2 separate regions of the Homo sapiens genome follow, and region 1 is linked to region 2. The links come from fine-mapping of genetic effects on gene expression. A gene starts in region 2. The other region holds a variant in brackets. All regions are shown on one strand. Distances are between the middles of the regions.

Region 1 (11,692 bases), 33 kb after region 2:
CTGGATGATAAAGCCCCAGGAGGCTGAGGCCTGAGCTTCTACTCAGTCCAGGCTGCAGCCCGGGAACCCCAACGGGAGGCAGTTTCATCACCAAGACCTGTCCTCTTGTCCTCACCCACAAGCTCTGAAATGACTCCCACACAGCCAGACCCTTCTGGAATCTTGGAAGTCAGAGGCAGAGGGGGCCTTCGAGGTCCTCTAGTCCACAGAGGGGAAGGGTGAGCCTGGACTGGTCCAGGCTTTTCCCAGTGCCCCACTCCCAGGAATCTCCCCCCTCCTTCCCCTGGCTACATGTGTCCCCCATGGTGGGGAGATGGGGGTATTGAGACAACATCTTGGGAAACCTCGGGTCCCCACACATTGGCCCAGCATGAGGGGCAGCCAGAGACAGGGGTCCTGTCCAGAGAGCTACTGATCTCTAGAGACGGGACCCCTGAGAGGCACCTCCTGCCCCACAAACTCCCAAGCTGGTGACTTACCTTGGACTTGAACCATGGCAGTCTCTGAAGTTTGTGTGAATGTCTGTGGAATATACATCACCTGCCCAGTGCAGCTGTACTGGCCACGGCTCTGCATTGTTGCTCCTCTCATGGACAGAGTCTGGTTTTCCTTAGAGAAATGAAGGAATTTTCCATCTCTGTAGAACTTCACCTGAGACAGTGGTGTATTCTTCCATCCCTGACATCACAGAGTCAGGGCATCTCCTTCAAACACAGGGTTTGGCCAGGCTTGGAGGTACAGCCAGGCTGCAAGGCAGAGGAACAGGGCAGCCCTGGAGCTGCAGGTCCCATCAGTCACTTCTCTCCCTCTGTCCTCCAGCCTAAGGCCTCTGCTGGGGATGGAGGCCCTTGGATGGTACCGGTGCAGTGTCACTGTCTCCAGTCCTTCATGCTGACCAGAGAAGGGCAGGACCTGGACTTCCTTTTACTCCCTCTCCTCCCTTTCCTTCTCTCCTTCCTCTTCTCTTCCCATCTGCCTCTATCCTTTCCCTTTTCTTCTCCCTTTTTCTCTCTCCCTGATCCTACCATATATTGGGTTTTCTTCCCCATTGACATATTTGGTTCCAGCTAGAATCATCCCAATTATGTAGCTATCTTATTCCTCCTGAACAGATTCCAATTTCTTCACACTTCACATGCTGCCCCAGTCCAGGCTGACCCAATAGTCCCCACCTCCAGTGACAGCTCCAGGTCCGGACGTGTGAGAATCCAGGGATTGAAGGAGCCTGATCTGGCTCGCTCCTACCTTCTTCCTTAAAGGCTCCCAGAGGTCCAGACTCCATCGATGCCCCACACCAATACCGATCCCCAGCAGGGGCTTCAGTTTCCACCCCAGCCATGCAAAGGCCCCGTCCTGTCTGTTCTCATCCTAAACTTACGTTCTCTGTCCTGATTGGGCAGGACAAGGGTCTCTCCCCAGGTATGGAATCTCCCATAGGTCAGGTAGCCTCAAGAGCCAACAGCCATGGCTGGGAGTCAAGCCTGAGGATCATGATGAAGGATGGCAGAAATGGGGCTCATGGAAGAGTTCCCTTCTCATTCCCATTATGAGCAAGAAGAACACAGGTGTAATCAGCCTCTTCCTGGACCATAGGCACCTTCCATCACTCCTGGAACTTATGAGGATCACAAGGTCCCTGAGCATAGGCCCGGGTGTTCAAACCTGGTTTCTCTATTGCCACCAACCACAGAGCACTTGGGTTTCCAAGTGTGGTCTGAACTCCTTCCCCAAGCAGTAACATAGATAACTCCCTGGGAGTCTCAGTACTCATATGTACGTCAGAGATCTCATCTCTTTAACAAAGGTACTGATTCAATGGAAGGCAGAGAAGCAGGATTTATTCATTATTCATTCATTGACTTATTCATTCATCAATCATTTATTGAGTACCTCTACATGCCAGGCCCTCGGATATATGCTAGTTTATAGTGTAGAAAGCGAAAAAAGAGATAAAGTGTGACAGAGGGGGCACAGAGAGGAACTGCTTAGTTCTACCTGGGGAGGAGACCCAAAGAGGTGAGATTGCTTTGACCTCATCTTGCAAGATAAGTATTCAGTATAAGGGAGATGTAGGGAGAGGCTGTTTCAAGATGTAGCCACATGAGCAAGGACACAGCCAGGAGTAGTCTGGGAACTGGTGGAGTGTGGCATGGCTGGAGAGGCAGGCTGTGAAGAGGATGTGCTAAGAAGTAAGCCTGGGGAGGCAGTAATCAGACAAACTCAAACTACACCAGAGCAGTGGGAAAGGAAAGGAGGGATTTGAAATTGGGAGTAATTGAATCAAACTTGCATTCGAGATCTGATGGCTGCCAAGTAAAGAATGATCAGAACAGGGTGAGAAAAAGACTGAGCCTATTGCAATTGCCTGGGCAAGAGAGAGAGGTGTCAGCTGAAACAATGGCAGTGAGGTGAAAAGGAGGGCGTAGATCAGAGTGACACTAAGGAGGCAGAATCTATAAGACTTGATGATACAGACTTGAAGATTTGATGAGGGTGAGGGGCAAAAGAGAGGGAGGAATTCAGGATAATAGGAAATTGAGGGCAAGACGCTGATCTGTAGGAAAATGTAAGTTAAAATGTGTCCATCTTCAGATGAGATGTTCTTGGCATGGCCAGGTGGAGATATCCCTCAGTTAAAGTCTATATGTAACTTCAGGATCTGTTCTGGGCTGGAGATAGAGACTTGGGAGTCATTTACATTTGGTGGTGCTTGAAGCCAGCTGTGTGGATGGAGCACTCCAGAACTCAAGGAAGGAGTATAGGTTGTAGTGTGTGTGTGTGTGTGTGTGTGTGTGTGTGTGTGTAAGTTGTTTTTAACCTGTTGCTTTTTATATATAAAGAATATCTATATAATATATATGGCTTAAAATAGCACAAGGGCAAAAACAACTAAGATGGTTATTAATAAGGAATTTGTTAAATAAATTATGGTCCAGCCATATAATGAAATATAATGTAGCCATGAGAAAGAACAAGGTAGATCCATAAATACCTGTATGGAATGAGCCCAAGATAAAGTGTTAGTGAAAAACACTAAAAGCAACATGTGAAGCCATGTGTACAGTGCACCTCCATTTGTATATAAAAAGAAACATGCATACATATTCACACACATATGTATGCTTGCATATGCATATAAAATGTTTAGAATGTAAGGGAAGACTGGGTAACCAACTCATGGGCTAGGGTGAGGGAGAAACAATTTTCACAATGTGCTTCTTTGTTCTTTTTTAAAAAATTTAATGCATTTACTATATTCACATATATGTTTCAATTAAAAAGCTAAATAAAATAAAATATTCCAATCTTCTTTATTTCCCCATAGAGCTTTCAATAAACCTCTCTTTCTTGAAGTTACCTGAGAATGGATCCATTCCCTGCAACTGAAGATTCTAAGGAACTGGGTTTCTCAGTATACAATGGGAATGGTTGGGAGGAGGTAAAGAGTAGAAGACAGTATCAAGAATCCAGAGCCCAGCACCTGTAGTCCTAACTATTCAGATTCCTTGAGCCCAGGAGTTTGAGTCCAGCCTGGACAACATATTGAGACCCCCATCTCTCTAAAAAAAAAGAGAAAGAAAGAAGGAAAGAAAAAAAGAAAGAAAGAAAGAAAGAAAGAAAGAAAGAAAGAAAGAAAGAAAGAGAAAGAAAGAAGGAAAGAAGGAAAGAAGGAAAGAAAGAAAGAAAGAGAAAGAAAGAAAAGAAGATTGTAGCTAGGGGGAGAGTAGGTGAAAAGATGAACAACATGACCGGGAAGATTTCCTAATCTCACCACAGCCTGGCTCTACCTTAAGGTAGGTAGATGGACAAGTATAGCTACCTGGGTCACAGATGCTAAGATGACATCCAGACAGGTCAGAAATTAAGAAGAAAGGCAGATGAGGAAGGATAAACCCTATCTTATAAGACAAATTCCTGGCACTCATTTCTTTTTTAAGTTTCCTTTTTGCTTTCCCTAGTCCTGCATTTTTGTTGAAGGCAGAAGATTAGAGAGAGACAAAGAATGGCTGAGTTGATATCCTTGTAGTTACAGTCTGAGTTCCCAGGTAGTACTGGAAGACGTGAGGTTAGCAGATGTAGTCTTTACTTCAGGAGAAAAAGAAGAGTTTTCTGCTAGAAATTGGTTCTAGTCTCTTTTCTACCCTCCTCCCATGCCATCTCCCCAGTTATAGAAAAGATTAGTCATGTCCCTGCAGGGTTAGCTCCCTATAGGGCCAGTGACAGCATCCTTCAGCTACTGCTGGTAGGGCTAGGACTTCACTCAGTAGAGAAGCCTGGTGTAAATGGAAGAAAATGACCAAAGAAAAGCGGAACGTGACCAGGCATAGATGTTTGCCACCAGGAACTGGGGAGGGAAAGGACCCTGAGGCTTTCTCGCCTAGACCCAGACCACAGCCCTGTGCAGACAGGCACAGAAGCCTGAGCTCAGTAAGATGGAGCCAGCCATCTACACCTCAGCCAGACAGCTGTCCCCTCAGACAGACATTTCCAAACAGCCCAGGTGGTCAGAATGGGACATGAACATAGGCGTACTCATGGAGACATGCAGGAACATGAGATCAAAGGCTCGCCAAACTTTCCATCACAGGGACCTGCCATGGGGAAAAGGGAGGGGGTGAGATTAGATAATAAGGACCTCCTGACAGAAAGAGTGGTTAGAAGTGGGACTGGTGCATACAGGAGGATCTGTGGCCTTTCTTCCTCCCTCTTCCTACACAGATTTGAAAACTGCCAGCCCCCACCACTGCCCCACCCCACCAGGTCATAGTTCCTATTAAGTTCCATAGGAACATTTCTGCACTGCATCCTGGCCATCCTGGCTTCAGGGTCTCCACAGAGTGAGCCCATGTCATACCCCTCCCCACTTCAGGAGGAACAAGACAAAAGGGCCAGGTGAGACCTCAGTGACAACCACCTTGTCCTCCAAGAAGAAGCAAGCAGGACAAGACTTAGGGGTGGGAGATGGGGGCAGGCGAGGGGAACTTCATAAAGGAGACCTTGACTTTGGGGTTGTTAGGAAAAAGGTGGCTTTAGACAGGACTCCAGATCTGACGAGGTGGGTCTCAGGCACATAGGAAGATTTCCTAATATCTCCAGAACCTGGCTCTACCTTAAGGTAGGTAGATGGACAAATGTAGACACCTGGGTCACAGATGCTAAGAGGGCATCCAGACAGGCCAGCAGCTAAGAAGGGAGACAGATGAGCATGCATAAACTGTATCTTATAAGACAGATTCCTGGCACTCTTTTCTTATTTAAATTGCCCTTTTGTTTTCCCTAGTCTTTAATAAAAGCTTGACTGAAGGTACCAAGGTGTGCTGAAGTGGAAGCAAAGTTCTCCAAAGTCCAGCATGGTAGACATCAGTGGTGGTAACCAAGGACAGACCCCAAGGCAAGGTGAACCTCAAAAATGGAACCTCAAGTCTATGCAGTCCAGCTGCCCTCCCCACCAGAAAGTCCTTGTTCCAGCCCAACATCAGTGCCTCTGAGTTTGTTTACTAGAAACAAAGGAAGAATTTCCTTGTAAAAATATAGACAGAGTAGTCCCTGGCTTTCTCCTCTTGCAGGAAGGATGGATTCTCCCATTCCATACCATCTTTCCCCCACACTGGCCCCAGAAATACTTAATTCAACTATGTGAAAATAAAGATTGTTTTTGGTTTGAGGGCATAGGGATCCATTTATCCTTATTCTTTATGAGGCACTAAATTAGCTTTGTATGTTATTAAATGTGTCTCGTCAATGCTGTTGGCATTGTTTCATTTTAACTTCTATTTGGTAATGTTCAATTTTCTGAATGTGTGGATCACTTAGCATGAGCAGAAAACCCTGCAAAAGTGGTGGAGGTAAGGAAAGGTTGTAATAATGGTTACAAAGCAGGAGCAGCATAAGGCTACCTAGGTGGTACGGTTTGAGTTGTTTTGGGAAAGCCCTTCTTAATCACCTCTCTCTAGGACACCACCCCAACACACATGAAATTCCGCTGATGTCTTTTTGGTTGCCACTATGTTCCCCAAGTTCTTTTAATATGCAAACACTGGTAGGAAAATAAGAAGAAATCACATCATATCTCTGTTTAGAAACTGGTCTAAGATGTTTATAAATGTTCAGAAAAAATGTAAATCTCCTTGGGTAAGCAGGCTTAGATGAAACTATGAGCTCATGTTGGCAAATGTGCAAGCTTTAGCATTTAAGCCAAGTGCTTTAAATCAATCTGAGCTTCAAAAGGCAATAGTTAAAAGTCAAGGTAC[G/A]GTAGACAAAAAAAATATTTTCTTGACTGGAAGAGATCTTCATGAGACTCTTTACCATGAATTACCTAGAGAAAATAACGTAAGGCAATCTTTTTTTTTTTTTTCACTTTAATTCAACTCAACAAAGATGTATTTAATTCTACTATATGTAAGTAAAACTGAAGACATAGAGTTGCATAAAACAGTTCTGTCCCCAGACAGTCTAGCCATGCAGGACAAAACACGTATGGAGACACAAAGCGAAGTGTCAGGTTGCTGTGAGAGTTTAAAGAAGGGAGATAGCCCATCCTGTTGGAGGTCTCACCAATAGCATTGAGAAGGGATTTGGAGGCAGCCATAAATTAATAAACTGTACATGAAGGAACTGGCTCAGAGATTGAAAATCACAGGACGTTTTAGGAAACTTTGGGTGGTGAGGTCTGGATGGAGCACAGAATCGGCGTGGGGAGTTAGAGGAAAATTAGGGTCGGGGAGAAGATTGGGATGCTCTGAGCAAAACCAAGGCAAAGGAAGTTTAAGGCCAATCAGCAACGTGTGTCTTCCATCCTTTTCCTTTTCTTCTGCTGTGGAGGGTTCATCCCTCTCCAGCCAACAGAACAATGATTCTGAACACACTCCCAAGAGGGACTTCTGGGCTGCAGGCACCTCCCCACGGTGGGCTGTGCACTTGGACCTGCTCCTGTCAGGGGGACTCGCCTTCTCATCTGGCTTGGTGCCCATCCTCCTGAGACCCCTCTTCCCAGCCTCTTCCCCTCTGCCACATCCCCCGACGCCCTCCACCAGCCTTGTACCTTTCGTTCCTTTACCTCATGGCTGAAAGTGACTGGTGGTAGAAAGACACCCAACCTCACTGCCCAAGTGCCCACCCACTTCCTTCACTGATGGGCAACAGAGATCCCTGAGGAGCAAGGGCTAAAGTGGGTTTAATTTCACCTCATGTCAGAGCTCAGCCCTATTTAATGCTTACTGTTCACTCTATTTTTTTTTTTCAGATGGAGTTTCAATCTTGTTGCCCAGGCTGGAGTGCAATGGTGCGATCTCAGTTCACCGCAACCTCCGCCTCCCAGGTTCAAGTGATTCTCCTGCCTCAGCCTCCTGAGTAGCTGGGATTACAGGCATGCGCCACCATGCCCGGCTAATTTTATATTGTTAGTAGAGATGGGGTTTCTCCATGTTGGTCAGGTTGGTCTCGAACTCCCGATCTCAGATGATCCACCCGCCTCAGCCTTCCAAAGTGCTGGGATTACAGGCGTAAGCCACCGTGCCCAGCCTTACTACTGTTCACTCTCTAATGCTTTCCCTGCTCTCTTCCATCACTCTCTGCATGTTGGCATCTCTTGGACCCACCTGACTTTCTTTGCGTCACACGCAGAAGCAGAACTCACAGGAAGGAGAAGCCTGCATACACTAAGGGACCAGGGCTCTTGATGTGTGAGAGGGCAGTGGAGGCAGCATATCTCTTACCTTCTGTGATGGGCTGAATTGTGGCCCCCAAAACTCCTATGCTGCAGCCCTGACCCCCGTATCTCGGAATGTGATTGTATTTGGAGACAGGGTATTTTAAAGAGTAATCAATTTAAAATAAGGCCATTAGGGTGGGCCCTAATCCATTCTGATTGGTGTCCTTATAAGAAAAGGAAACCAGGACACAGATGCACATAGAGGGAAGACTGTGCGGAGACACAAGGAGAAGACAGCCATCTACAAGCCAAGGAGGGAGGCCTCAGAAGAAACCAACCCTGCTGACCTTTGACTTTAGACTTCCAGCCTCCAGATATATGAGGAAATTAACTTCTGTTGTTTAAGCCACCTGGTCTGTGCCATGTGTTACAGCAGCCTGAGCTGACTCCTGCATCTGCCAAGCCTGTGATGTCCTCAAGAAAAGCGGAGGACAACTTCTGGCCCCAACCAAGAAAGGAGCAAGGGCAGCAACCTCACAAGCCAGAGGGGAAACAGCCTTCCCAGACCAGGGGGTGCTGGCAAACAAGGCAAGCTCCTCTTTTCCATCTGCTTTCCATTCTCCCGTGACTGGCCTTAGAGCAGACTGTGCTGCTGCAGGCATCTCTGTGCTGTCAGGGAGTGTGCTCAGGTCTCCCTTCAAGAGAACCTGGTGCAAGAAGCCTCCAGCCTCCTGCTGCTATATTTTGGTTGTGTTGGGTGTTCACACTGCCCCATGCTGCTCCCAGCCAATGACTGAGCACAGAGGGTGCCAGAAACAGGGCTAGAAACAGGCCACTGTGCCTGATGTGAGGCCTCGCTAAGAGGCGAGCTCTGTTCTGGGACACTAAGCCTGGCGGGGACATCCTGGAGCTGCACCACAGTTTGAGGATCATCCTACCTGATCCTCTTCCCAGCCTGCTCTCCTTTCCCAGGTGTCTGACCTGCACTGCAGTCTGAAGTCTCTCCTGACCACTCCTTCTGCCCGCTCTTCATCCTTCACAGGTGTGGTGTTTCCCACAATGCCTCTGCAGGTCTAATCTTGTCTTGGCCTCTGCTTCTCAACAAATCTGGCTGCCCCTAGTTGTCCTTCCTTCAATTCATCCTCCACACTGTTAGAGTCCTCCTCCTTTCTAAAGTCCAGATCTGATCTTGTCACGCTCTGCTTCCATTCTTTCCAAGATGTCTGTTTACTTACAAGATAAATTAGAAGCTTATGTCTCTTGAGACTCAGCCTGTGCTCAACTGTCCACTCTCTTATTCCCTACCCAAGGCCCCATCTTGACAGCCACATGGAACTATCTACACTCTAGTCTAAACGTCAATGCCGCTTCACATCAAGGCCTGTGGACATATAACGCCTCCTTTTTGGAACATCTTTCTCCATTCTCATCACCCCTTCCTGCCGCACACTCACTCACTCATACACACACACTTCTCCCAGTGATCTTTAAATTCCTATTAAGATCCATGCAAATGTTCCCTTCTCGATAGAGGTTTCCTGGACACACCCAAGCAGAGGAAATCATGCCTCTCTTTGTGCTATTTTTAGCACTTACTAATATCTCTTATGACATTTATCAAACTGTCCCACAATTCTTTGTCTTTTAGGGAAGCCTTTAGGGTAGGCATAAAGTCATTTCTGTATCTCCAACACTAGCATAGTACATCGTGTAATGTTAAGTATGTCTATATGGGTACATATGCATACACACACATGTGTGTAGGAAACATAACGACATGGCTGGGCGCGGTGGCTCACGCCTGTAATCCCAGCACTCTGGGAGGCTGAGGTGGGAGGATCACGAGGTCAAGAGATGGAGACCATCCTGGACAACATGGTGAAACCCCGTTTCTACTAAAAATACAAAACTTAGCTGGGTGTGGTGGCACGTGCCTGTAGTCCCAACTACTTGGGAGGCTGAGGCAGGAGAATCGCTTGAACCCGGGAGGCAGAGGTTGCAGTGAGCTGAGATTGCACCACTGTACTCCAGCCTGGTGACAGAGTGAGACTCCGTCTCAAAAAAATAAAAAAAGAAAAAAAGAAACATATCAACATTAGAGTTTCTAGCTTATATCCCAATATCTTGGCCATTCATTAGAACCCTGGTTAGGCTCCTCTCTTATCAACTTACCCTCATGACCAGCTTCTGCCTCCTGTTCCCATCAGAGGAGGTTTAAGGCCAATTAGCAACATGTGTCTTTCATCCTTTTCTTTTCTTCTACTGTGGAGGTTCATCACAGCACTTCTATCAGTTCACCAGATGAAAGAGGCATCCATCTGTGCCTCTTCATCTGTTGGTTGTAATGCAGCACATATGATAAGTGGGTATTGAGTGGACCTGGACTGGAGTCACAATCACTGATTATGTGCTGGAAGTCAGAGGGGGACAGGGAAAGTCCCCCTTTCCTAGGAAAAGGGTCCTCAAGTTGCCAAGAAAAGCAAGAGATCAAATTCCCCCGAGGAGTGGATTTCTGACCACTCCTTGGTTTGTTTTTTGTTTTTGTTTTGTTTTGTTTGTTTTTTGCTTGAGTTAATTTAAGTTAGTTTCTATTACTTGCAACTAAGAAGTTTTAATGAATTCACTTGAAATACTATTGTTAGGAAGGAAACAACTTGCTTGAGAGGTCAAGCTTAGGCTGAAAGTCAACATTGGCCAAGGCACTTAGAGAGCAATTAATCCTCGTGGCAAGGCAGGGATGGGGTGGAGGGGATAGATGATTCCTAAGGTCCTTTCTAAGAGGATAAGAGTGCTTCCCCTGGTCAGTGGTTCTGGCTAGTCTCCTCCCTCCCTTCAAAATGCGAAGCAAAAGGCAGGGAGAAGGTCTCCTTGCAGATCTTCAGCTCTCTCAGGGAAAGAGACCCACGTCACTCCCAGCAGAGTCCTGCATGGCAGCAAGGGGCCAGGGCGGAAGAAGAACAAAAGACACCTGGAGAAGAAAGGCAGTGCCTTTCCCTGCAGCAGCCAGGGCTGCAGATATGATGGAGCAGGGGAGATGGTCTCTTCTAGAGCAGCATGAGCCGAGTTACACAGATGATGTAAGGAAGAAGTAGAGAAACTGCAGTCTCAGCTCAGAGTTTTCCTTACATGCTTGTGAAAATAAAGTCACCCTCTGTTGCAGGCTGAATAATGGCCCCCCAGGATGTCCACATTCTAATCCCTGGAACCTGTCCATGTTTTATTATATGGCAAAAGAGACTTTGTAGATGTGATTAAATTAAGGCTCTTGAGATTGGGAGATTATCCTGGATTATCAGAGTAGGCTTGATGTAATCACAAGAGTCCTTCTAAGAGAAAAGCAGGATGCAGCCCCCTGATGACAGAAGCAGAGAGGAAAGCAGAGTTGGAGACAGAAGACGCTATGCTATTGGCTTCCTAAAGACAGAGGAAAGGGCCACAAACCAAAGAATACACTTGTATTCTTCAGTAAATAGCAGCTGCCTTGGAGTGTTGCTTGATTCAATACATGTAATAGTAATCGTTCAATAAATGCTTGCTATTATACCCTTGGATGTCTTAGAGCTGCACTGTCCAATATGGTAGCCACAAGCCACATGTGACCATTCGACACAGGTGTGGATTTTCCGAATTGAGGTATGCTGTATGTGTAAAATAACACACCAAAATTCAGATACTGAGTACAAAACAAAGAATGTAAAATAGCTCAGTAATCTTAATATTAATTATTTGTTGAAATAACATTTTTAACACATCCAATTAAATAAAATATATTAAAATTAAATTTCACCTTTTTTTAGTGTAGCTACTAGAAACTTTAAAATTCTATATGTTGCTCACATTATATTTCTTTCAGACAGTGCTCTTTTGAGTCTCTGACCCGTTACTGAATAGAACAGTCTAGAAGCAAGCCCTACACATTTAGGGAAAGTGATGTCATACACTGACTTCTTTACAGTCACCCCGGTACTCATCTGCTCCTTGGGCTCTGAATTTCTACAATGCTGACTGAGGAACATCCCCGAGCACACCGTTAATTCTGGA
Region 2 (11,692 bases):
ACCCCGGAGATAAGACTAGGCCCAGCGGGTAAATATTTAACATCATCATACCCTTCCACCCACTGTCAGGATTCCTCAAGAAAGCTAATCTGCCTGGCCGCTAAGCCCTGCAGACCCCAGACTGCAACCTCTTCTGTGTCCCACATGATACTTTTCATTATAGCTCTACAAAGAAGGAAGAAGAGGGAAGGAAGATTGAGTGTGGAATACAGGCCATCTAATATTAGGCGTTGTCACCATATTTAATCCTCCCAAGAATTCCATTGTAGCTGAAGGAATTAATGTTAAGTTTCTTTCCAAAATCACATGGCTAGTAAGTGACAAAGCCAGGCTTCTTTCTCCAGACGCGGCGTGCTTTCCATGGACACGGGTGTTAGGACCGAGTGCTGTTCAGGGCACTGGGGGTAATCTATGTATTCTCACTTGGGAGATGCTGGTAGCCAATGGGTAACAGTCCAAATGTTACTCAGAATATCCAAAGAAGCATACTGCATGTCCTAGCTTTTCTGTGACAGCTGGACTGCTAGACCTGTAGTGTTACAGAACAGGAAGATCGCCAGCAGGGCAGCCCTGAGTCCTCCTGAGTCCTGGGCCCACCTCCTGGAGGCCTCCCTCCACCTGCAGGGCTAAAGCCTGTTGACTTCAGATCTTCCCATATGCAGCGGCGTGTGAAGAAAACAGGAGACACAGTCTCTGCTCTCTTAAGCTCTCGGAAGGCAGGGAACCCACAGTCACCTAAATGGGCAAGTTCACGTCCACACATCCACAAAGAAGTTCAAAAAATGGTGCTAACTGCGCCCAGACATTGCACTATGAAGCAAGAGGAGTAAGGAAGGCTTCTGGGAAGCTGTGACTGGGCAGAGGATTAAGAATAAAAGGTGGTGAGGGGAGGTGACTAGAGCAAGCAGGGGAGTTCTAAGTGGAGAACGAGGTCACTGATTTTTATCAAACAACTCAGGGCAGAGAAAAAAATGCACATCCCTTCTGCTGTGTGGGGCATCTTGAAAATCCCAAGAAATACAGCACAAAAGCCCATCCTGCCATTTTAATGAGTTGGTCTAAGACCCACCTTAGGAAAGCTGGTGTCCACTAAGCCTAACCTTCCTTCCCTCCAGAGGCCTGGTCATGGGTTCACACCACACAGGCACTGTGCAGGCACAGGCTGGGGCGCTTTACACACAGCAGCTAACTGAATCCTCCTCTTTAGTCCTAGCTTGTTTTATATTGCTTTCACTCCATGGCATCGTTGATAAATCCAGTCTCCTCTACTAGATGCTTCTAGAGTCCTCAAAGATGGGAAGCCTTCCCTTCTGTGTGGTCCCTAATCCAACAGTCTCTCTCAGGGTTCCGCACACATTCTAGGCCACCAGCCCCACAACAGTCCCCGACCCATCTCCCCTTCACTGCCCAGAGGGCTTATGACAGAAGAGCATTGTCCTTAGCAACCTCTACCTCCTGTTGCTTAGCAACTGCAGTTCCGAGTCCCCTACACAAAGGCTGAGAGGCCCCTTCCACACTGTGAGGCAGTAAAAGGGTTAATGGGCTCAGGGGCCTCCCTCAGGTCCCAACTCCCTCAGCCGGCTCTGGCCTGACCAAGAGCTCCAGACGGAGGTAGGGGTGTGAACAAAGGATAGGAGCAGACAGTAAGTCCCAGAGGCTACTGCTCACAGCCCCTGTAGCTCAAGCAACAGCACAGACAGAAGACCCACAGGTAGACAAAGTTGCTAACCATCCAGTGGCTTCAGGCCTGAGGGACCTCAAGGCAGGACACAAGCTGGAGAGAAGGAAGAGCTTCAAGTCTCCCTGGTGGAGTCCCAGGAAAAGCCCCTCCCTCTTCCACCTCCCCTTGCCTTGCCCTCAGTCAGGCAACATTATGAATCTGTCCAGCCTCAGCCCGGCAGCCCGAGACCCCTCCCAGGCCTGGGCAGGCGGAGGCAGGGAGGGAGGGCTGGTGGGCACAGCCGTTTTTTTCTCCACTGGTGCTAATTGGGGCCCGCTTTCATCCATTCCCACAGGGCTTGTGTAGACACATACACTCCCACCAGGCTGTTTGCCAATAACTGCCCCCAGTTTGAAAAGAAACTTCCCTTCTGCATCACCTGCCTGCACCTCCTCCCCTCTCTGCTCAGCCCGCCCTGTGGCAAGGCTCAGCCAATCCCGGGGTTTCCCTCAGGATTCAAACTAAAGAGGGAAAAGGTGGGGGTCTCCCCATCAACATCCTCCCAGGTGGCCTTTCCTGGGTCTCCCCTCTGAAGAGGAGGCAACAAGACTCTCTCTCGCCCCATAGCCCAGACCTGTCCTTAGGGCCTCCTGCAGACTGCCCTCTGAGACCTGGCACTAAACCGCTTAGATTAAGGCTCCATCCGGGATTAGGAGGAAGCAGAGCCATTGTAGCCATTCTAGGGAGCCAGCTGGGGTGCAGCAGAAGGCGCCCAGGGAGGCTACACACGATTTTAAGTCCCAACAGGTGCCACCTAAAGCAGCAACCCAGGCCAGCCCCATCCAGTCACTGACCTTTGGGGATCCTGGGCCCTCCCCAGCCACCCTCTCTGTACACCTGTGCTTCTCTACTCAGAAGCAGACTGAGTGTCCCTGGAAAAGCAGAGAGGTCACAGCCGCACCTACCCTGCTGCCCCATCAGCCCACTCCCTAGAAGACTTGAACCCCTGAACTAGCATTTAAGACGATGAGGAAGGGGGAGAGCGCAGAGGAGTGAGCAGATAGTAGAGCCAGGACCAAGGCAGGGCCAAGAGGGGAGACTACAGATCAGGATGAAGTCTGGGAGGTTTCATGATGAGATGTAGAAAAAGCAGTTACAGAATTAGAATGGATATTTGGAATAGGGCTGCAGGATCTCCTTTGGAACAGACCACGTGGAGTCCTAAATAGCACAGCTATAAGAGTGTGAGTGTGTGTGTGTGTGTGTGTGTGTGTAAATGAATGAATCTTTCAATGAATTAACACTGCTTGGGAGCACAGCCATGCTTATTAAGCAGAGTTAAGGCAGCAGAGCTGGAGATGAGATCAGAGCAGGGACAAAGCCGTTCATAGGAGGCCTTGTGCGACTCTACCCAGCCCACCTTTCTTGCTGATACCTCCCTACCTCCCACCTGAGGAGAACTCTTACCCACGTAATCAGGGTCAATTCGGGGAGAGTAGAGGCCGAACTGGATGAAGATGGGAAGCAGGAATCCAAAGCGCAGCCACTCGATGACATGCAGGGGGGGCCGGCCGGCCGGGGGCAGCAGGTCACAGCCCAGCACCACACTCTCCCCAGCCCGGCCCACCACCGATACCACCTCAGGCTTCCCTCGACCTGCATGATGGGTGGCATGAGGGCACAACGGGGGGCTAGGGTCAGTGCTGGGAGGGGGAGTGCCATCAGTATCTCTGTAGGCACCTTAGGACTTTGGGTGACTGGAGAAACCCCCAGTTCAGCTTCTCCAGAACCAGCCCTATTCCTCCCCTGCCCTCACATGCTCAAAGAGGAACCCTTGAGGAACACCCCCATACCCACCCCAAGGCTAACAGGGCATTCTTGAGCCCAAGAGCTCAGCTTACCGTCAGCCCCCTGGCTGATGACCAGGCTGAGGACGGCCAGGCCGAGGCACCACACCATAGCCCAGCTGGCCTGCTCACCCAGCCCCTCCTATCCACAGGAGCCCAGATGGAGGGGCCAAGGGATGTCCTTCTGATCAGCTCAGGGAACAGGTTTCAGCTCTCACTCTTCTGTACAGTGAGGGCTTGGCTCATGTAACACCCGAGGAAGCTGCTCTCCGGAGAACCACCAGATCTAAATGAAAAGTACAAGGCAACATGCAGAGTTGGCCAATACTGGAGCCCAGAAGAAACCCCACCATTAGAGAAAGGCACTGGGAAGAGAAAGGAGGGAGGAGTGTAGTTAAGTGAGGGGTAGGGGGAAGGGGGGGATCTTGAAGCCCTGGGGAGTAAGAGCAGGGGTAGGAGTACTGGGAGAATGGTGAGTGCTGAATGCAGATACTAGAAAGGTGAGGAAATGGGGGAGGCTGGGAGAGTTGGGAAGGTCTTAGGAAATGTGGAAGGATTCTGGGGATGCCTGCATTCTGAGGGTCTTGAAAAACTAAGCCAGAAGAGAACTGGGGTTCCTCATATGCTTGGAAAAATATTTTTGAAGGAAGTATGGTAGATCAAGACTCTCATGGCCTAGGCTGCTCTCGCTTCTTTCCTTACTCTTGATGCTCACAAGGTATAGCAGCAAGATGGAACCAGTGCTGTCGCCTTCACCCCTCTGTGACAAATAAGGGCCCTGAGGATATCTGCTCAGGGGCAGAGAGCCAGTCAAGGGCAAATCCAGGGCGCTTAAGCCTCAGAAAGTGGTCCCCAGGACACCCCGATACAATCCCTTGTCCCATTTCCCCAGCCTCTATGAAAAACTCTGGAAGCTGAGGACCCGAGGCCTTTCTCCATTCAGTCTCCCTACACTGCTTTGGCAGTGAGTGAGTCAGGCACTTGGGAGAGGAGGAGCTGCCTCCCCCACCTGCCAGTATGGGGGATCCAGGCAGCATCCTCCAGGTCTGGACAGGTCCCGGGGCTGGCAGCTGGCGCCACTTCCTCACGATACTGCCAAGCAGCCCTCCCCCTGCCAGGCACCACCACCCAAGGACCTCACCCAAATCCCTCCCACTCACTCCCCTCCAATATCTTCGGGGTGCCAGGGTTTGTCAAGCTCTTTCTTCCCCAACCCCAGAGGCATGGTCCAAAAAAAAGCCTGTGAGTCCCTGAAGTGTACAAAATTAACCCTGGGGCATGGAGGGTAGGAGCTTCTGACAGCCCCACAGATCCTAGGGCAGTCTCAGAGAGCCAGAGGGTCCATGCCAGGGCCTGGCACTGCCAAGTGGACTCTGCTCTGAGTCCTCCAACCCACTCTTGGCCGCAAAGTTCAGGACAGACTATAAAACATCCTCCACAGAGTCTGATCCTTGCCTCTACTTAATGATCCTGTATGTCTAACTTCTGGCAATTCACTAGCAACCAAGCCCCCTGTTTCCCACTGCCTCCAGGCAGCTCTCCCACACTTCCCTGAAAAACCTTTTTCCAAGTATATAGGAACCCCCTAGTTCTCTCCTGGTTGTTTTCCGAGACTCTGAGTAACTAGGCATCCCTAGAATTCCTCCCAGTCTCTTAATATCTTTCCAACTCCCCCGGCCTCCACTATTTCCTCACCCTTCTAGTCTCCCCACACACCACTCCCTCGTCCTCCCATTACTCCCTTCCCAGTTATCGCTACTACGCACAATCCCCCCACAATTCCAGCTTCTCGCACCTGATCTCCAATTGCAGCAGGTCTCCTGCACTATAAAGAACTCCCTTCTGGTCTCCCCACCCCCCAGCCACTTCTCCCCATCCTCTCCTCCCGATAATTCCCCTCCCTGGGATTCTCCTGCATCAGCCCACAATACAATTCTGATACCCCACCCCCAACAATTCCTTTCTCCCTCGCATTCTCTGGTCCCCTGGAACTCCTCCTTTCTCTTAGAACCCACCAAGAACTCCCCCACATTGCCTCCAGAACTCCTGCAGTTCTCCGGGAACTCCCACCCACCCGCCAAGAATTCCACTTCACTCCCCAGAACTCCCCTAGTTCTACTCCTGCAACGAATTCCACTTCTCTCTAGAACTCCCCGCTTTCTCCTGTCCCCCATAACTCCGCACTACCAGCACCACCACTTCTATACCTCCAGTACGCCCCCTCCCTCACCTGCTCCGCACCGCTCGGCTCCACTCTCGCCGCTACACAATAGGGGGCGGACCCGCCTCCCCGCCTCGGATGCCCCGAGCGCCTCCCGTCGCCCTGGAGACCGCCAATCCCCCTCCCGCGGCGGCCAATTGGAGCCGCCAGAGGCACGGCGAGGCGGGCGGGACCCCTGAGCGGCCTGGGAGTTGTAGTTTCAGGAGGGAAGAGCTCGGCTGCACGTGGGCTCAGGTCGCCCCCTCGTGGACCTCTGCACAGCCAAGCGTGGAAAGGCCGGTGGGCCGCTTCCCGCCGCCAGCAAGAGGGGCAGCAGGGTCCGGCTCGCGCTCCAGGGCTGCGGGAGCTGGCCCCTTGCCAGGCTACTGGTACGCCGTCCTTCTTTCGGAACCTACGGGCGACCCTCTCCGCTCCCCGAACGGGCGCGCCACAGAGGCGGCAGCGAGGGTTGAAATCTGAGCCTGGGGGTAGGAGAACCAGGCGGGGAGCATGACTCCCCGCCCTCCTCCCAGGGGATCCACCCAGGTCCCGGGCTCATCCGATCTCCTCCCCCATCCCCATTTCTACCTCCACCCATTGCTTCTCTAGCAGGACTGGAAATACCTGTCTGCATTGGCGAGCTCCCAAATCTTGCCCAGGCGCCTCCCACCGTGTGCAGCTGAGGAAGGCTGTGCTCTGAGCGTGGGGTTGCCAAGTCAGCTCCCAAGGCAGCTCTGGCACCAACGACCCAGAGAAACAGGCCCAGAGGGGAGAAACGACAGATATCCTGACACGGGAGATTGAAAGGGAGGAATGAAATACAAGATCACTTACTGGACCCATGCAGGGTGCCAGACCCTGGACTAGATGCTTTATAACTCTTGTGTAACCTTCACAGAAACCCTGCGAAGTAAGTAGAGCTCCCTTTGACTAATGAGAAAACTGAGGCTCAGGGAGATGAAGTAACTTGGCCCAAGCTTTCCCAACTAGGTTATGGCAGAGCTGGATTGAGACCCAACCCAAACTTCATCAAACCTACTCCCTTGGAGGCTTCGCCCTCAGACACAAAGATATCTTGCATATCTTGCCCCTCAGAGATTCCACCTCCTCAGCCTGGTGATGCTGTAGGGATGCTGGGTCGGCTTAAGCAACATTGCCTGTCCAGGTCCTTCCCATTCAGTTGGCTCCCTTGGAAGCCTTCCATGAAAGCAACGTGCTGATCTCATCCCAATCCGAAGTACTAAGACTCAAACTGAGTGCACCAGGCATCAGACTCACAGAATCACTGCTGCAGCATCATGAGAGAACCTCCAGGATGGGCCTAAGCACTACTTGGCCCCAGAATCCCTGGCACATCATTTCTCCATGTAGTCATCCAAGCCCCTATCTCATTACATCCTGGGCCAGGAAGCTCAGCACTACTGTTGTACCCATTCCATCCTTAGTAAGCTCTGCCTGCTGGACAGTTCTTCCAGGTGTAAAGGTTTTAGTGCTTTTGGGTGACTGAGATGGAAGGGAAGAGGCAGGAGCAGTGGGCCAGTCTCTCCCACCATCCCTCCTGCAAATAGTCCCAAAGTAGCAGCTTTTCAACAATGCATTTCAACATAATACCCTGATCTATTGATAAGACTATAATGGAAACATGTTAATGAATGCAGCATGGAAGCAAGGCTAGAAGAAATGGTAAAAGAGTGAAGCGGGTTTTTTGTTTGTTTGTTTTTTTGTTTTGACAGAGTCTCACTCTATCGCCCAGGCTGGAGTGCAGTGGTGCAATCTCGGCTCACTGCAACCTCCACCTCCCGGGTTCAAGCGATTCTCCTGCTTCAGCCTCCCAAGCAGCTGTGATTACAGGCGGCCACCACCATGCCTGGCTAATTTTTGTATTTTTAGTAGAGATGGGGTTTCACCATCTTGACCAGGCTGGTCTTGAACTCCTGACCTCATGATCCACCCACCTCGGCCTCCCAAAATGCTGGGATTACAGGTGTGAGCCACTGCCCCCGGCCGAGCCAAGTGTTTTTTAGTCTTTGGATCTTTACCAATCATTGGGAAGGATCTCCCTCCCCGCTGTTAGAATTGGCCACACCTTTGATCTAAACTGCTGTCTCCAGTGGTTTCTTGAGGATAAACTAATCTCATTTAGACATTAAAATAACTTTCTGTTAAATGACATTTAAAATGGTTTTCAATTTTTAAAAGTTTATGATATGGCCTTTTTTTTCTGGAAACTTATTTTGTGACTTTTATTGTTATTGCCATTTTTTGTCTGATTTATATGTATATTGGAGATTTTTTGTTAAGAAAAGGAACCTAGCCCTATAACTTGTTCCCTCACTGTGCCAGGAGTGAAAGCTGATTTAAAAAATAGTCCCTGAGGTTCAAAACAAAAGACTTTCCTCTAGGTTGTCCTTGATTCATAGTCATTACTCTCTGGGAAAGCTTATTCAACCAACGAGGATTCCACCTAACCTAAGTATCAGGCAGCCCCCATATTTTCAAATTGCTGACAAGGATATCAGAAAATATTCTCTCTCTCCCCCTCCTCCTCCTCCTCCTCTTCTTCCTCCTTCTTCTCCTTCTCCTGCTTTCTTCTTTCCTCTTTCCTCCTCCTCCTCCTTCTCCTCCTCCTCCTCTGCTGCTGCTTTTCCTCCTCCTCCTCCTCCTCCTCCTCCTCCTTCTCCTTCTTCTTCTTTTCTCTCTCTGTCTCTCTCTCTGTCTCTCAGAGCTGGGGTATTCTCCTCCTCTTGCCTTTGAACATCAAAACTCCAGGCTCTCCAGACTTGGGACTGTGAGTTATACCATTGGCCTCCCTGGTTGTGAGGCTTTTGGAGTTGGACTGAGCCACACTTTTGCCATCCCAGGGCCTTCTTTGTGCATGTTGTAGGACTTGGCCTCCACCATCATGTAAGCCAATTCCCCTAATAAATCCCATCTCATATTTCTATATCTGTATCTATCTATCTTATTGGTTCTGTCTTCCTGGTGTATACCTAATATTTCAGCAGGCCTTGGGAAGAAAGGACCTGAGCTGCTCCATAGCCCTGCACAAAGAAGATGGTGTGACCTCAGAGATGTCTGCTTGGCATCGTTAAGCACAGGTGTTCCTAATCAGCAAAGTTTCTCATTGTCTATAGATAAGCAGAGAATTACTTGATATCAAATGAACCCTGAAAGGTGGAACACATGGGCTTTTAGTAGTGACCACATTTGATGTGTTAACATTGCTTGTACCAATTAAGCACCACATAACTATCCCATATTCTAGAATAGAAAGGGTGGCTTTAATAATCGATAATAGGGATGTTGTTAATCAGGCATATATTAAGTTATATCTGAGTTAAAAAAGAAAAGAAAAGATTGTCATCCAGGGACTCTGTTGACCACATGCCTGTAAGCAGCAGTCTTATTACCAGATCCGTAAAGAAGTGCGGTTTCTCATATATTGTCATTTAACTTTTTGTGTGCCTATCTTCTATCCCAATGAAACACTTAGCCCCACAAGGGTGTGGATATTGTCCTGTTTGTCTTTGAATTCCTGCTTCAGAAAGGCCCTGCTTACTTTTCCAGCCTGGTTTCTCACTTATCCCTTTATCGCAGTGTGCATGACTTTGCAGGCCTTAGAACTACTGTGCTCTTTCACATACCAGTGTCTTAGCACTTAGCTTCTGTCTCGATAGAATGCCCTTTTCTCCTTTCCAGACTCACTGCTGGCCACAGGTCAAATTTCTGTTGATCTGTTCCCTTCAGGACACATTCCGTGACTTTTCCCACCACGCCCTCACCTTCACCCCAGCCCTTTTCCTACCTTGTTATTGTATCTTTACACACTCCACAAAACATTCCTTGAAGGCAGAGGTGTCTCTTCTGCCTCCCCAGTGCTTGCCAAGTTCCTGGCATATTGCAGAGGTAGCGGCTTGTGCCTCTCTGAGTTTATATTCAACTTTCTTTAAGATCTCATCCTTCCTCTTCCAGAAGCTCGGCCTCTTTTGAGGCCTCAACCCTTCTCTGCTCAGAGATCGGCTGTAAGAAGAAGGAACTTTGCCAACTTCCAGGGAAATCCCTGGGCCTATCATACATTCATTCCTTTATTTATTCATCCTTTTGTTTACTTTCTATGAATTCAATCCTGCAATAACATGAGAAATGAGCTGCCTCTTTATGTGCAAGATGGACTCAAGGTGGCCTTTCCAGTCAGTCCCCATCCCTGCAGTGGTGCCTCCTAGGAAAGATATAAAAGGAATCAAAGGGATTGGGGGCTGCTGGCCTTTTTTGGAAGCAAGACTGCTCAGGGCCTAAGGGAAGCCCAGAGAACCAGCCTCAAGAAGGGACTGCCTTCCAGAGGGACAAGGGTTCAGGCCCTCAGAAAGTAGAGGGGACCAGTTTACCAGCACTAGGAGCTCTTGGGGCTGGTTTCCCAACCTTACTACCTCCTTCCCAAGCCCCAAGGGGCTCCATCTCCTGCACAAATACCTAGGGAGACCCCTACTCTTGGCTTCCAGCCCTGCCCCACGCCGCTCTCAAGACTCTCCTCCTGGGTGGTCCTGTGCCAGCCCATGTGTTCTACTTTCCTAAAAGGAAGGTATCCTTGGTCTCATTGGTTGCCCAGTTGAATGCATTCCACTGACCCCTGCACATACTTCTTGTTCCTTTTTTAGAAGATACTTTGGAGATCAGCATCCTCCCCCTCAAAAACAAAGAGGAAGAAGAGACCCACAGCAATGTTAGGCATGCCTCCTGCCATGCGGCCCTCTCCCCACCCTTCAGACACCTCTTCTGAAACTCCCCAGGGCCCCCAACCCACCCTGTCTCTGTGGCACCAAGTCGCTTGCCTAACTGTGTCTCTGTAGGAGCTCCAAGCTGCCTCTCTGCCTGCTTCTCTCTTCCAGTGTGCACTTCTTGGAGAAAGAGGCTGTGGCTCAATGGAAGTTTGCTGAACACAGGGTCACAGGCCAGAGGCGAGTAGCAGATCAAAGCCCAGAGCTCCAAAATGTCACCTAGGCTCCCAGCCATACATCACAGCCTTCACCACTTCCTGCAATTCACCCACTGCGTACACCTGTCCTGTCAATTGGGTGTTTTCTAATTCTCTCCCCAGTCCTCGCTTCCCCCTAACCCCCTGCCCCATGGCAACTGCATAAGTAACATCCACAAGATCTGATTTGGAGGGAATACTAGAGACTTGGGCAGGGACACATTAGGCCTGGGAGGCTGATCATTGGTCTAGGGAAAGAGCAAGAACATAAACTTAAGGGCCTTTGCCAGGGAGTTGGGGGTGGGCATTAACCCAGGACAAGACTCCAAAGAGAAGGCCTAAGACATGGAAATCTATAGGCAGGGACACAGGCAGGACAGTAATACTAATCACAAGCAGAAGTCAAGGCTCCACGATCTCGGCTAATAATCCAGCATCCCTATGGGGTAGACGCCAGAGGCCCAGAGCAACTGGCATCAGGGAGATGACGGAGAGGTTGCGAGCTCAACTCAGACCCAGGGTAGGTCTGAATGAGGTCCTTCCTACCTCCCTATTTAGGAGAGCTTCTAGACTAGTCTGGGATGGATGGAGTTGTTAAGCAAATGTATCTGCCAGGATGAGAGTGGGGTAAGGGAGCAGAAGAATCTTAACAGGAATAAGGCCACTTTTATGCAGGATTCAAAATGCCTGAAATTCTCAAGTCACAGGTTCAGTTAGGTTCAAAGAAATCTCTCACATTTCTTATCTGATGAACAAATAGCAAGCATGTTGGTGGAAAACGGGATAGGTGGTGAGTGACAGCATACCAAAACTTCCCTGTGAGGGGGCCCTTTAGACCCACTCTTCTCCCCAAAGGAGGGCCTGAAAAAGCACGTGGACTTGGGGGAAGGCACTGGGAGTTGGGGCAAAGACAGCAGAGTGGGTTTTGCCAGAGCCACCCAGTGAGGACGGAAGGACCCAACACAGCTCCTGCAGAGTTGTGGTCACTTAATTTGACTTTATTGCCAGCCAGT

Direction of the effects. Positions count from the first base shown, and alleles are read on the strand shown. Sizes are in standard deviations (SD) of each study's normalised expression.
In carriers of allele A in region 1, the expression in nucleus accumbens of the gene that starts at base 5,778 in region 2 tends to be higher than with G alone (moderate effect, 0.71 SD a copy in GTEx).

What was found. PIP is the estimated chance that this variant, and not a neighbour inherited with it, causes the effect.
Region 1: its variant is the best candidate, but not a certain one, in a credible set for the expression of IGSF9 in nucleus accumbens (GTEx, PIP 0.56).

The regions. Positions count from the first base shown.
Region 1 is chr1:159,973,319-159,985,010 of GRCh38, forward strand. It overlaps LINC01133 (long intergenic non-protein coding RNA 1133), which reads left to right. Exons shown (of 3, transcript NR_038849.1): 2 at 3,326-3,794; 3 at 5,282-5,768. It also overlaps a transcript of SLAMF9 not described here and the pseudogene FCRL6P1. Among named protein-coding and RNA genes, the nearest start is that of LINC01133, 18 kb to the left of the region's middle. The variant G/A (reference allele first, on the strand shown) is at 6,252.
Region 2 is chr1:159,939,836-159,951,527 of GRCh38, forward strand. IGSF9 (immunoglobulin superfamily member 9) reads right to left here and starts at 5,778. Exons shown (of 21, transcript NM_001135050.2): 1 at 5,738-5,778; 2 at 3,562-3,793; 3 at 3,128-3,316. The coding sequence starts at 3,619. LOC124904438 (a long non-coding RNA gene) reads left to right here and starts at 1,534. Exons shown (of 3, transcript XR_007066684.1): 1 at 1,534-1,611; 2 at 6,317-6,617. It overlaps SLAMF9 (SLAM family member 9), which reads right to left. Exons shown (of 4, transcript NM_033438.4): 4 at 11,657-11,692. RefSeq lists a silencer at 5,764-6,058 and an enhancer at 5,901-6,401.